Regions from separate parts of the Homo sapiens genome. Here region 2 is linked to region 1. Evidence: fine-mapped expression QTL. A gene starts in region 1. The other region holds a variant in brackets. All regions are shown on one strand. Distances are between the middles of the regions.

The links. PIP is the estimated chance that this variant, and not a neighbour inherited with it, causes the effect.
Region 2: its variant is the best candidate, but not a certain one, in a credible set for the expression of PLEKHA8 in naive CD8 T cells (Schmiedel 2018, PIP 0.57).

What each region holds. Positions count from the first base shown.
Region 1 is chr7:30,025,543-30,031,072 of GRCh38, forward strand. PLEKHA8 (pleckstrin homology domain containing A8) reads left to right here and starts at 2,870. Exons shown (of 14, transcript NM_001197026.2): 1 at 2,870-3,260. The coding sequence starts at 3,221. It overlaps FKBP14 (FKBP prolyl isomerase 14), which reads right to left and starts at 1,160. Exons shown (of 4, transcript NM_017946.4): 1 at 770-1,160. The coding sequence starts at 966. It overlaps FKBP14-AS1 (FKBP14 antisense RNA 1), which reads left to right. Exons shown (of 3, transcript NR_187577.1): 3 at 1-1,699. RefSeq lists enhancers at 1,416-1,565, 3,472-3,591 and a silencer at 2,982-3,311.
Region 2 is chr7:29,961,013-29,966,012 of GRCh38, forward strand. The region is part of intron 2 of SCRN1 (secernin 1); the gene reads right to left. Among named protein-coding and RNA genes, the nearest start is that of FKBP14-AS1, 25 kb to the right of the region's middle. RefSeq lists an enhancer at 1-442. The variant C/T (reference allele first, on the strand shown) is at 1,980.

The DNA.
Region 1 (5,530 bases):
CAGAACATGGCTTAACATCAAGGAAATGCTCACTAAATACTGTCATAATGGAATGAATGGAACCGATGCCTAATTGAAAATCATTAGGCTGTAAACCATTTCCATGTTCCAATTTCTTCGTTTATAGAACAGAAATGATAGTGTAACCACCTGAAAATCCTTCACCTAGACTTCCAAAACCACACCCACCTCATCAATGAAGTCTGACTCTCTAGAAAGAAGCAAATGACTGAAATCATGGTCCTGTGCCTTGACCAAAATACCATTCGTCAGAACAAAAGAAGTAGGTCAGTGAAACGGCATTAGTATATCCTTCAACAGGCAAATAAGTGATAGTGTAGTTTGCTTTTGAAGTCGCTGTGAAAAGTTTTAGGTGAACATCACCTACACCACATTAAAAATGGAATCAAGTCATTTTCTTTAAGAAATGGAGTTTGAGATATGAGAATTCTTTTGGGCTTTTTCTACTTATTGGCCAATTATACACCCAGATATATTTCTGCAATATTTCAAAGATTCTAGTTCTAATTTGTATAATAAAAAAAATTAACAGCCTTTTCCAGACCACATGTTTCCAACAAGACCTTCAAAGGCCTCGCTCGCTATATAAAACTGGCTTTAAACAATTTCCTTTCCCAAAGAAGGAAATAAGATATTTCGGTTTTGTAAAAGAGGCAAAACCAGGTACAGGCCACCTTTCCTGCTGGAGAGCTGGCATAAGTGAGTGGATTCTTAATTACTATTTTACCTGCGGGGCATAATTACTTACGTGGAGTGAAATAAGGAGCCGTCCTTTTCTAAGTAGCCTTCATAGTGGACCAACATCAAATCCCCTCCTTTGGTCTTGCGATGGCAGATGAATGGCTTCTGGAGAACTTCAATTTTCACTTCTGGTTCAGGGATCAAAGCCCCAATCAAAGAAGTGACGAACAGAGTCAAGACCGCGTTCCACAAGAAAAGCCTCATGTTGCTGAAGCAAGGAAAGAAGTCCCTACAAAAGCAGCGAAAGGTCCCTCGACTTCATAGATTTAAGAACGTAGTTCAAGGCTTACGGACAAGGGCTTCAGACAAGTTCAGGACTCCCCCTTCTTAGAAGACGTGGCACATTTACCACCAACTCTTTTCTCAAGGGTCACGAACCTACCTTTAAAGAGTTAAGCCCAAATGCCGGCCTGACTGGCTCTTATAACGCGGCCGCCTGGGAATAGCAGCCTCCCATTGGCTATTGGTGCTGTCCTTCAGGCAGCTCTCAAGCCAATGACGCTGCAACGATGGAATTTACAGCCCGGTAGAGCCGGGCAGCTGCCAAGCGGCGGATCATCCCTTGTGGTCCTAGAGCCCGGTGGATTTCAGCATTCAACCAGCGTGGATTTTGGGAGAGGGGCGGGGCGCAGAGCCAACCGGAAACTCCTCCGGCTGATTTATCTCTGTGAAGAACCCTGCTGAGAGACGTAGGAAGAGTCCCGGGGCCCTATGAAATCTTCGGGGTTCCAGGAAAGACTCGTTTACTCTCGCCGTTGGAGAGCGGCCCCCCAAGATGCCACAATCCTAGGATTTTGCTATTGCTTATAAACTGTAAAGACTGACATACTGCTTGAGGGTTCACAAAGCGCGTTCCCGTTGCATGAACCTCACTACACCCAGTAAGGCAGGTTCTTTTTTCCCATTTAAAAGAGAAGTAAATTTACACCAGGAGATATTAACTGTCCTGCTTAAGGTTGTTTGGCCCCGAAGCAAATGAGCTCTGCCTTCAAACCAGGTCTGATTCATTCCACAGCACCACGTCATGTTATGGCTGCTAATAATTTATCCCTTAAGTTACCTTACAGGGTAAATAATGAGTTTCGACTTGCAGACTTCCGCTTTAAAGAAGAAATGGTAATCATGGTTACGAATTACACAGCCTCATCGTAGTTTACATTTTCTAGTTTTACATTTTTTGCCTAAGTTCAAAAGTAATGCATGTTCATTGAAGTCATTTTGGAAGAAATTGGAAAGCACTAAAGTAAGATTTCCAGATAATATTGGGGAGTCGAATCAAGTTGGAATTTCAGATACATAACGAATAATGGTTTTGCATTTTTATTTACTAAATCAGGCAACTTTAAAGAAAAAGAAAGCTCGCCGATACCACCACCAGCCGCAAACAATCCTCTTAATATTTTGGTGCATGCTTCTGTGACATATACTTAAAGCGATTTAAATCGTATTGTAGTCTTTTCTCACCTCCTCTTTCCACTTAATCTGTAGTTAACATTTTTTCTGGTCTAATAACCTTAACACAGTGCATATCCGCACTCTATGTGCATAGGAATCCCCCTGAAGATCTTGTTTAAAATGCAGATTTTGATCTGGAGGTCTGGGGTGGGTGCAAGATTCTGCATTTCTAACAAGCTCTTAGGTGATGTCAGTGCTCCGGGTCAGTAGATCAACACTTCCATAGTGAGACCTTAGAGTCTGGACAACATCTGTTTACACTGGCCTCATAGTATTCTACCCTGAAATTCCAATAATCTCTTTACGCCCTGTTATTGGTTACCTCAAGTGTGTGAGATCAATTAGGCAGCTTTGGAACAAGAATAGGGACTAGAACTCAGGAGGTATCGTGAGAGGTCACGTAGACCCTCAAACGGCGGGCACCATTTACAGTCAGAACTGCGCTCCACACTTGTCTCAGGGGCCTCCCTCCTCCCGTCGCCTAGTCCGCAGTCCGCGTCTCGGGACTCAATTTCCCTGCGGGCCGTTCCCGCAAACTCCGCCCCGCCGCCGCTGCCGCGAAATCCCGGAGTGGATTTTGGGAAGGGGCGCGCGAGCGGCGCCCTGGGCATGCGCGAGCGCGTCCCGGGCCCGGCGAGTCGAGGGTTCAGGTGGTGCGCCGTGGCGCCGCCTGCGACCGGCAGCTCGTTCGCCGCACTTTGGAGGCTTCGGCTGCCCCTCCGACCCACGTAGGGCCCGGACCCGGGCCTCCTTGTGAACAGCGTGCCGGCTTCGCCCCACGGGTTCACCGGCTGGCTGGGCTTCAAGCGCCGAGGCCGCCGCAGTGACCCCGCCCCCGGGCCGAGGATGTGAGGCGGGCCGGGCGTCCCCACACCGGGCCCGGGCGCCGGGAGTGGGCGTCTGGGCAGCGCCAGGCGATGGCCCTGCTGCTGGTGCTCCTCGCCTCTTGGGGCCTGGGGCAGTGAGGGGGCCGGCGGGCGTGGGCCGAGTGGCCGCGGGCGCCATGGAGGGGGTGCTGTACAAGTGGACCAACTATCTGAGCGGTGAGTGGCCGTGCCGGGCCGGGGGCGCGCCGGGGGCCGGTCCTTTGTCTGCGCGGCTGGAGGGCGGTGTCTGGACCCGTCTTAGGGAGGGGGTCACGGCCCTTTCCTGAGGCCAGCGCGGAGCGGGAGTATTTCCCAAAGCAGTTCTCTCACGGGACCGTGTCGCCGTGCAGGACGACACGGCCCTCTCTTGGGGTTGGTTAAGAGCTGTGGCTGCCCTTTCGCTTCAAGGAAGGCTACAAAGACTGAGATTTTGGGTGACTTGAAAGGCACGGTGCTCTTGATGTCAGCGGGAGGAAGGCGCAGACGCCCCGCCGTGGGGTTCTCTGGGAATCTCTTGAATTTTGGCGAAGGAACCGTACTCCCTTGGCTCGCAGCTAGGTTGGAAGGTTTCAAAAGAATGCCAGCAGTAACCTGGAATTCCACAGCGGAAAGATCCTTTATCAAAGTCCTCAGTGCAAACACTTTCCCTTTGTCACCTTCAGAGTCATCTGCGTGCACACCAGGGTGTCAAGAGTCCCAACTCCACAGTTTCAAAGCTCTGCACAAGGTTTTTTATTTTCTCGTTGAGCATTTCCTTTTGTTTTACAGACTCAGAAATTACCGTTAAATGAATGCAAATATTTGCAACTTTCTTGCCGTGCCTTACAGATTGGCTTTAAAATAGTCCCCGCCCTTTTTTTCTAGTTTGTGGAGGTAAAAGCTTCATATCTTGAGAAGGTTGTAACTGTTCTACAGCTGTGAAAATTATTCAGAACGATCATTTTTGTCATGTGTGCAACTAGTATTTAATACAAGCCTACTATATGCTGGAAACTGTGCTAGCCACTTTTTTGGAAGTAAACTTTTTATCACAGAAAATGAATTAGGTCTTTAAAATTTTAAAGGCAGTGTGTTTGAAAGCAGAAATGTTCCCAGTATCCCTTAGAGTGGGTGAGAGACGTTTTCTTTCTTTTGTGGGATAGTTTTTAAAAGGTTGTAGTATGGTAATGCGCCGGGTGTTTTAAGAATGGGTGTGTGTGGGAGGATCAGTTGGCATACATAGTAACTTCGAGGAGGTCACACAGCACAGCCAAAGGTGCCCCTATTGGGCGTACCCAGAATCTCTTCCCTTTGCTTAGTGTAATTAGCAGTGAGTTCACCTGTTTATTTTTTTTCTGTAATCATTAATAGAGACTAAATGAGAAGAGGTTTTTCTTGTTTGCGTCAAGGACCTTCAGTGATGTCTGCAATTAGATTAGATGAGAATAACTCAAAGCTAGGCTTTGGTTTGGTGGATGACAGAGGCTGATCAACACTGCTAACCTAAGGGGAGGAGGCTCGACCTGGCAGTTTTCCTTCTGAGGTCTCTCTAAGCTCTCAGATGCATATACTTGAGTAAAATTTAGTTCCTGATCCTTCACTCCTTTCCATTACACACACTTTTTTTCATTCATCTTCAACATTCTTCTTTTTTTCCCATTCTTCCCCATCCCCAACTTTTTTTGTTGTTTTGTGGGGTTTTTTCCCCCTCTTTTCCTTCTCCTTTCTATATAGAAAGTTTAGTCTCTTGATACAGTAACTATTTCCTGGTAGTGAAATGCTTTTGCTGTTGTTGTTGCTGACTGTCCTTGTGTATCCTTCAATAAAGCAGAACTCTCTAGAAGGATCTTTTGGAATCTTTGTTATTTGATTCCTATCTGTTCTGTTGGAAAAGAGTCTACTTTTTTCTTCCCAAAGTAAGAGAAGTTAATGCTGTGAGTGGTGCTAGGGTGGAAACCCTGAAGAAGAGGGCACTGGAGCCATTGCCAGAGACAGCTGTCTCTACGTGATGCTGCTTGTTCCCTTAGCCCACGTGCCCCGTCCTTGTAGGCATACTGTTCATAGAAGCCCATCACACCACTGGGTATTTTCCAGATATACATAGAATGATGGTTCGGCATATTCTCTCCTTTTAGGAGATAAATTTACTTGGGAAAGAAGTGGTAATAGCCTAGGAGGATCACATGCATTCTTGTTTCCTCCACCCTCCACTTTTCTACTTGTTCTTCGGAAGTGAGCATGTTGTGTTAGTGACAAGTTACTTTTTCTTTTTCTGAAGCTTGTTTTAAAAAGTAACTTTTTTTTTCTTGTAGGTTTGCACATACTAACTTTAAAATACATACAATCCCAATCCAAGTTTTTGTTCATTCTGAATTTTTCTCCAAAGGTAGTACGTAACCCATGCCTCTGTATGGTTTGTGTATTTGTCATGCTGACAGCTTGATATGGGATGCCTTGTGTCAAATTTG
Region 2 (5,000 bases), 65 kb before region 1:
TGTAATTTTGGAAACTGAGGAACTCTGTGCTGGAGGATCTTATTTCTTTTTTTTTTTTTTTTTAATTTATTTTTTTATTGATAATTCTTGGGTGTTTCTCACAGAGGGGGATTTGGCAGGGTCATGGGACAATAGTGGAGGGAAGGTCAGCAGATAAACAAGTGAACAAAGGTCTCTGGTTTTCCTAGGCAGAGGACCCTGCGGCCTTCCGCGGTGTTTGTGTCCCTGATTACTTGAGATTAGGGAGTGGTGATGACTCTTAACGAGCATGCTGCCTTCAAGCATCTGTTTAACAAAGCACATCTTGCACCGCCCTTAATCCATTTAACCCTGAGTGGACACAGCACATGTTTCAGAGAGCACAGGGTTGGGGGTAAGGTCACAGATCAACAGGATCCCAAGGCAGAAGAATTTTTCTTAGTGCAGAACAAAATGAAAAGTCTCCCATGTCTACTTCTTTCTACACAGACACGGCAACCATCCGATTTCTCAATCTTTTCCCCACCTTTCCCGCCTTTCTATTCCACAAAGCCGCCATTGTCATCCTGGCCCGTTCTCAGTGAGCTGTTGGGCACACCTCCCAGACGGGGTGGTGGCCGGGCAGAGGGGCTCCTCACTTCCCAGTAGGGGCGGCCGGGCAGAGGCGCCCCTCACCTCCCGGACGGGGCGGCTGGCCGGGCAGAGGGGCTCTTCACTTCCCAGTAGGGGCCGCCGGGCAGAGGCGCCCCTCACCTCCCGGATGGGGCGGCTGGCCGGGCAGGGGGCTGACCCCCCCACCTCCCTCCCGGACGGAGCGGCTGGCCGGGCGGGGGGCTGACCCCCCCACTGGAGGATCTTATTTCTTACTCTTCTAGTCTTAAATACAGTGAACTTGACATATGGAGATGATGGCTGGATGGGACTGACTGACAAGAAGATGGAGAGAGGCTAAGTGGACAAGTTGAAGGGAGAACCGCCTGGAAAGGGGGATCAGTTGGCAGGTGGGTGAGTGGATGAATGAGGAGTCCACACGACTTTTTCCATGGTTTTTGCATGTGTCCAGAGGTTGCCCTAGAAACCTCATACTTGAGAGTGTTGAGGTCCCAGGAAATCATTTTCTGAGAATATAACCACCTAGTATATAATTAGTTTCATATAATTATTAAACACTGTAATTATTAAATAATATAATTATTTACATATAATTAAATTATACAATTATTAAATATAATTATGTATATGTAATTAAATTATATAATTATTAGATAATTGTTTATATATAATTAAATTATTATATAATAAATTATATAATAGAGGGTTATATTCTCAGAAAATGATTTCCTGGGACCTCAACACTCAAGTATGAGGTTTCTAGGGAAACCTCAGGACACATGTTTAAAATGTCATGAAATGGGCCAGGCATGGTGGCTCACGCCTGTAATCCCAACACTTTGGGAAGCCAAGGTGGGTGGATCACTTGAGCTCAGGAGTTTTGAGACCAGCCTGGCCAACATGATGAAACTCTGTCTCTACCAAAAATACGAAAATTAGCCGGCTATGGTGGCACATGCCTGTAATCCCAGCTACTTGGGAGGCTGAGGCAGGAGAATTGCTTGAACCCAGGAGGCAGAGGTTGCAGTGAGCTGAGATCATGCCACTGCACTCCAGCCTGGGTGACAGAGTGAGACTGTCTCAAACATAAAATAAAATAAAATAAAATAACATAAAATAACATAAAATGTCATGAAATGGCTGAGGAATAGATGGGTTTTTATGAAAAGTTCTTACTCTTCATAGTTTAAAAAAGTCTGTATTTTAATAGTTGCTTGTATAAAAGTTACATGATAGTAATTGTGGCTCCTAGACCTAAATATGGAAAGAACCCATCATTCTGTACTTGGTACAAGTATAGGAGATGGAGACAGATGTAACTGTAAGGGAACTAAAGGGGTAAGAGTAAGTTTGAAAAGCAGATTCAGTAGTATGTGATGTGCCAAAGA[C/T]AGTTTTGGAACTGAGACCCGGAGTCACAGCAATTCTCATTAGTCAATTCTTTAAAAAAAAAAAAAAAATCCTTCTTCACAATGTTCTCCTTAAAGCTTTACAAAGTGCTTTCATGCATCAGCTCACGTGTGTCTCACTAAAGCCTGTAATGCAGGCAGAGGGGGTATTATGATCTCTATCTGGCAAATAAAGAAACTGAGTTTCAGAGAGGCTCAAAGGCCCAAGACACTATAAAGGGAGAGGCAAAACACGAACCTAGGACCCCTCTCTCCTGGGCCAGAACTCATCCTCCTAGTTTCAGGTGGTTGTAAATTTCAATTGACATGCATAGAGGAGTATCAGGCTAAAGGGAGGAGTGGATATTGGTGTTGAGGCCTGGAAGGATAAACAGGAGTCTACCAAGTAGATGAGAGGAGGGGAGAAGAAGGATCTTCTCAGCAAAGGACAGAAAGAGCAAAAGCACAGAAAAATGCAAGTGTGTTATTTGTTCAAGAAAAGGCAAGCAGTTCAGTGTAGCTGGGGCCTAGGGTACAAGCTGAGAGGGCAGAGCTAACAATGAGAATAGAAAAGTAAGCAGGAAATTGTATAACCCTTACGGAGGTCAATTCTTATAAAAGCTTTACCCTATGACCCAATGATGCTACATTTGGAAGTACATCCAATGGTATCTACACATGCACAAAATGACTTATGTACAAGGTTCTCCACAGCTGCACTTTCTGGACTAGCAAAATACTGGAAGGAGTCCAAGCATCTACCAATAGAGCACTAATTAAATGAACTATGGTACATCTCCACAATGGATTACTATGTAGCTGTAAGAAAAAAATAAGGACAATCTCTATAGAAAAATCTTTAGAAAATGTTAAGTGAAAATAGGAAAGTGCAGAACTTTTCTGTAAGTTCAAAGTTATATATTAAAAAATCATGTTTAATAGTAGTATACATAATGTGCTGCATTCACACAAAACAATAGAAAATAAGGCCTGATATTCAGTTTTTTTGGATTTGCATAAAATACTTGAAGGATATGCATGAAATTAATAAGAGTTATACAGGATGGAGACAAGGGAGGAAGACTTCTTACTGTGAACCTTTTAAATATCATTCAATCTTTGAACCACATAAATATATGATTACCTATTCAAAATGAAAAATTACATTTTAAAATGTCTTTAGCCAAATGAGTTAAAAACTTATGTCTACACAAAAGACTGCACACAAATATTTATAGCAGCTATGTTCATAACTGCCAAACTTTAGAATCAACTAAGATGTCCTTCAGTGGGTGAATGGATAAATAACCTGGTATATCCAGAAAATGGAATATTGTTCAGTGATAAAAAGAAATGTGTCATCAAGCTTGGAAAAGACAGGAAGAAACCTTAAATGCACATTACTAAGTTTAAAAAAGCCAATCTGAAAAGGCTACACACTGAATGATTCCAACTATGTGACATTTTACGAAAGGCAAAAGTATGGACACAATAGGATCAGTGATTTCTGGGGGCTAGGGTGGGTGGGTGAATAGGTGGAGCACAGAACCTCTAGGACAGTAAAAGTATTCTCTATGATACTACAATGGCTTGTCATTATACATATAGGTATACCCACAGGATATCCAACACAGAGTATAAACTATGAACTTTAGTTAATAATACTGTATCAGGCCGGGCTCGGTGGCTCACATCCATAATCCCAGCACTTTGGGAGGCCGAGGCGGGTGGATCACTTGAGGTCAGGAGTTCAAGACAGGCTGGCCAACATGATGAAACCCCGTTTCTACTAAAAATACAAAAATTAGCCAGGCATGATGGTGGGCACCTGTAATCCCAGCTACTTGGGAGGCTGAAGCAAGAGCATCGCTTGAACCCGAGAGCTGGAGGTTGCAGTGAGCCAAGATTGTGCAACTGCACTCTAGCCTGGGCGACAAAGCTAGACTCTGTCTCAAAAAACAAAATATATATATATATATATACTGTGTCAATATTGGCTCATCAGTTGTAGCGAATGTACCACATTGATGCCAGACGTTACTAGCAGGGTAAACTAGAGGGCAGGGTAAGGGGCTGTTTGGGAACTCTCTGTGCCTTCTGTTCATTTTTCTGTAAACATAAAACTGCTCTAAAAATAGTCTATCAATTTAAAATAGAAAAGAATGAAAGAGAATAAAAGAAAGGAAAAGTGAGCAGGGTGCCAGTTGGGAAGAGTTCTGAATGGCATACAAATCAGCTTGGACTCTCATCCTGTAAACAAAACGAAACACTTTTCAGCAAGGGAGTGGTAGAGCTATCTATGTTCTGGGAAGAAAATTCTGGTAACCCTGTAGGGAGAAGAACCCAGGAGAAAGAGACCCAGGGACAAATGAGAAGATTGTAGCAGAAAAGAGATGGACTCAGTCTGAACGAGTCAGGGGCAGCGGGGAGGAGATGGACAAACAAGAGAGGGGGCAGCGGGACTCAGTGACAGCTGTCCCTGTGCATTGGGGATGGGGGAAGTGAGGGTCGACGTTTCCCGTGGGCTTCTAGTATAAACTACGTGGCCGACAATGCATATGTTGTTACAGCAACATATATGAGCTGGGGGAAATGAATTTGCTTTCTTACCCGTGAGGTTATTTCACCTGCAGAATATGCAAGTGGGAACGCAAAGAGGCAGCTCAAAACACAGGTATGGAACTCAGAAGAGAGGTCAGAGCTGCCTTAGAGGCTAATTATGGTATATATCACACTATACTTATGTATGGAAGGGGACAGGATTTAACCTAAATATATCTGAGTAATCATATACCATAGGTTAACTAGCAAAAGGAATCTAGCCTCGTCCTTAAAATAATTGTAACCATGAGAGTAAAGTAAGAGTTATGTAGCCTATCCTCCAAAAAAGAAAACAAATTTTTTTGAAATATTTATTTCAGACATGTTTATAAATGGCTTTGTGTGATTTTTGAAGTTAGTATGGCTACTTAACAAATTACCCCAAAATTTAGTGGTGTAAAACAACTTTTTTAATGCTCATGG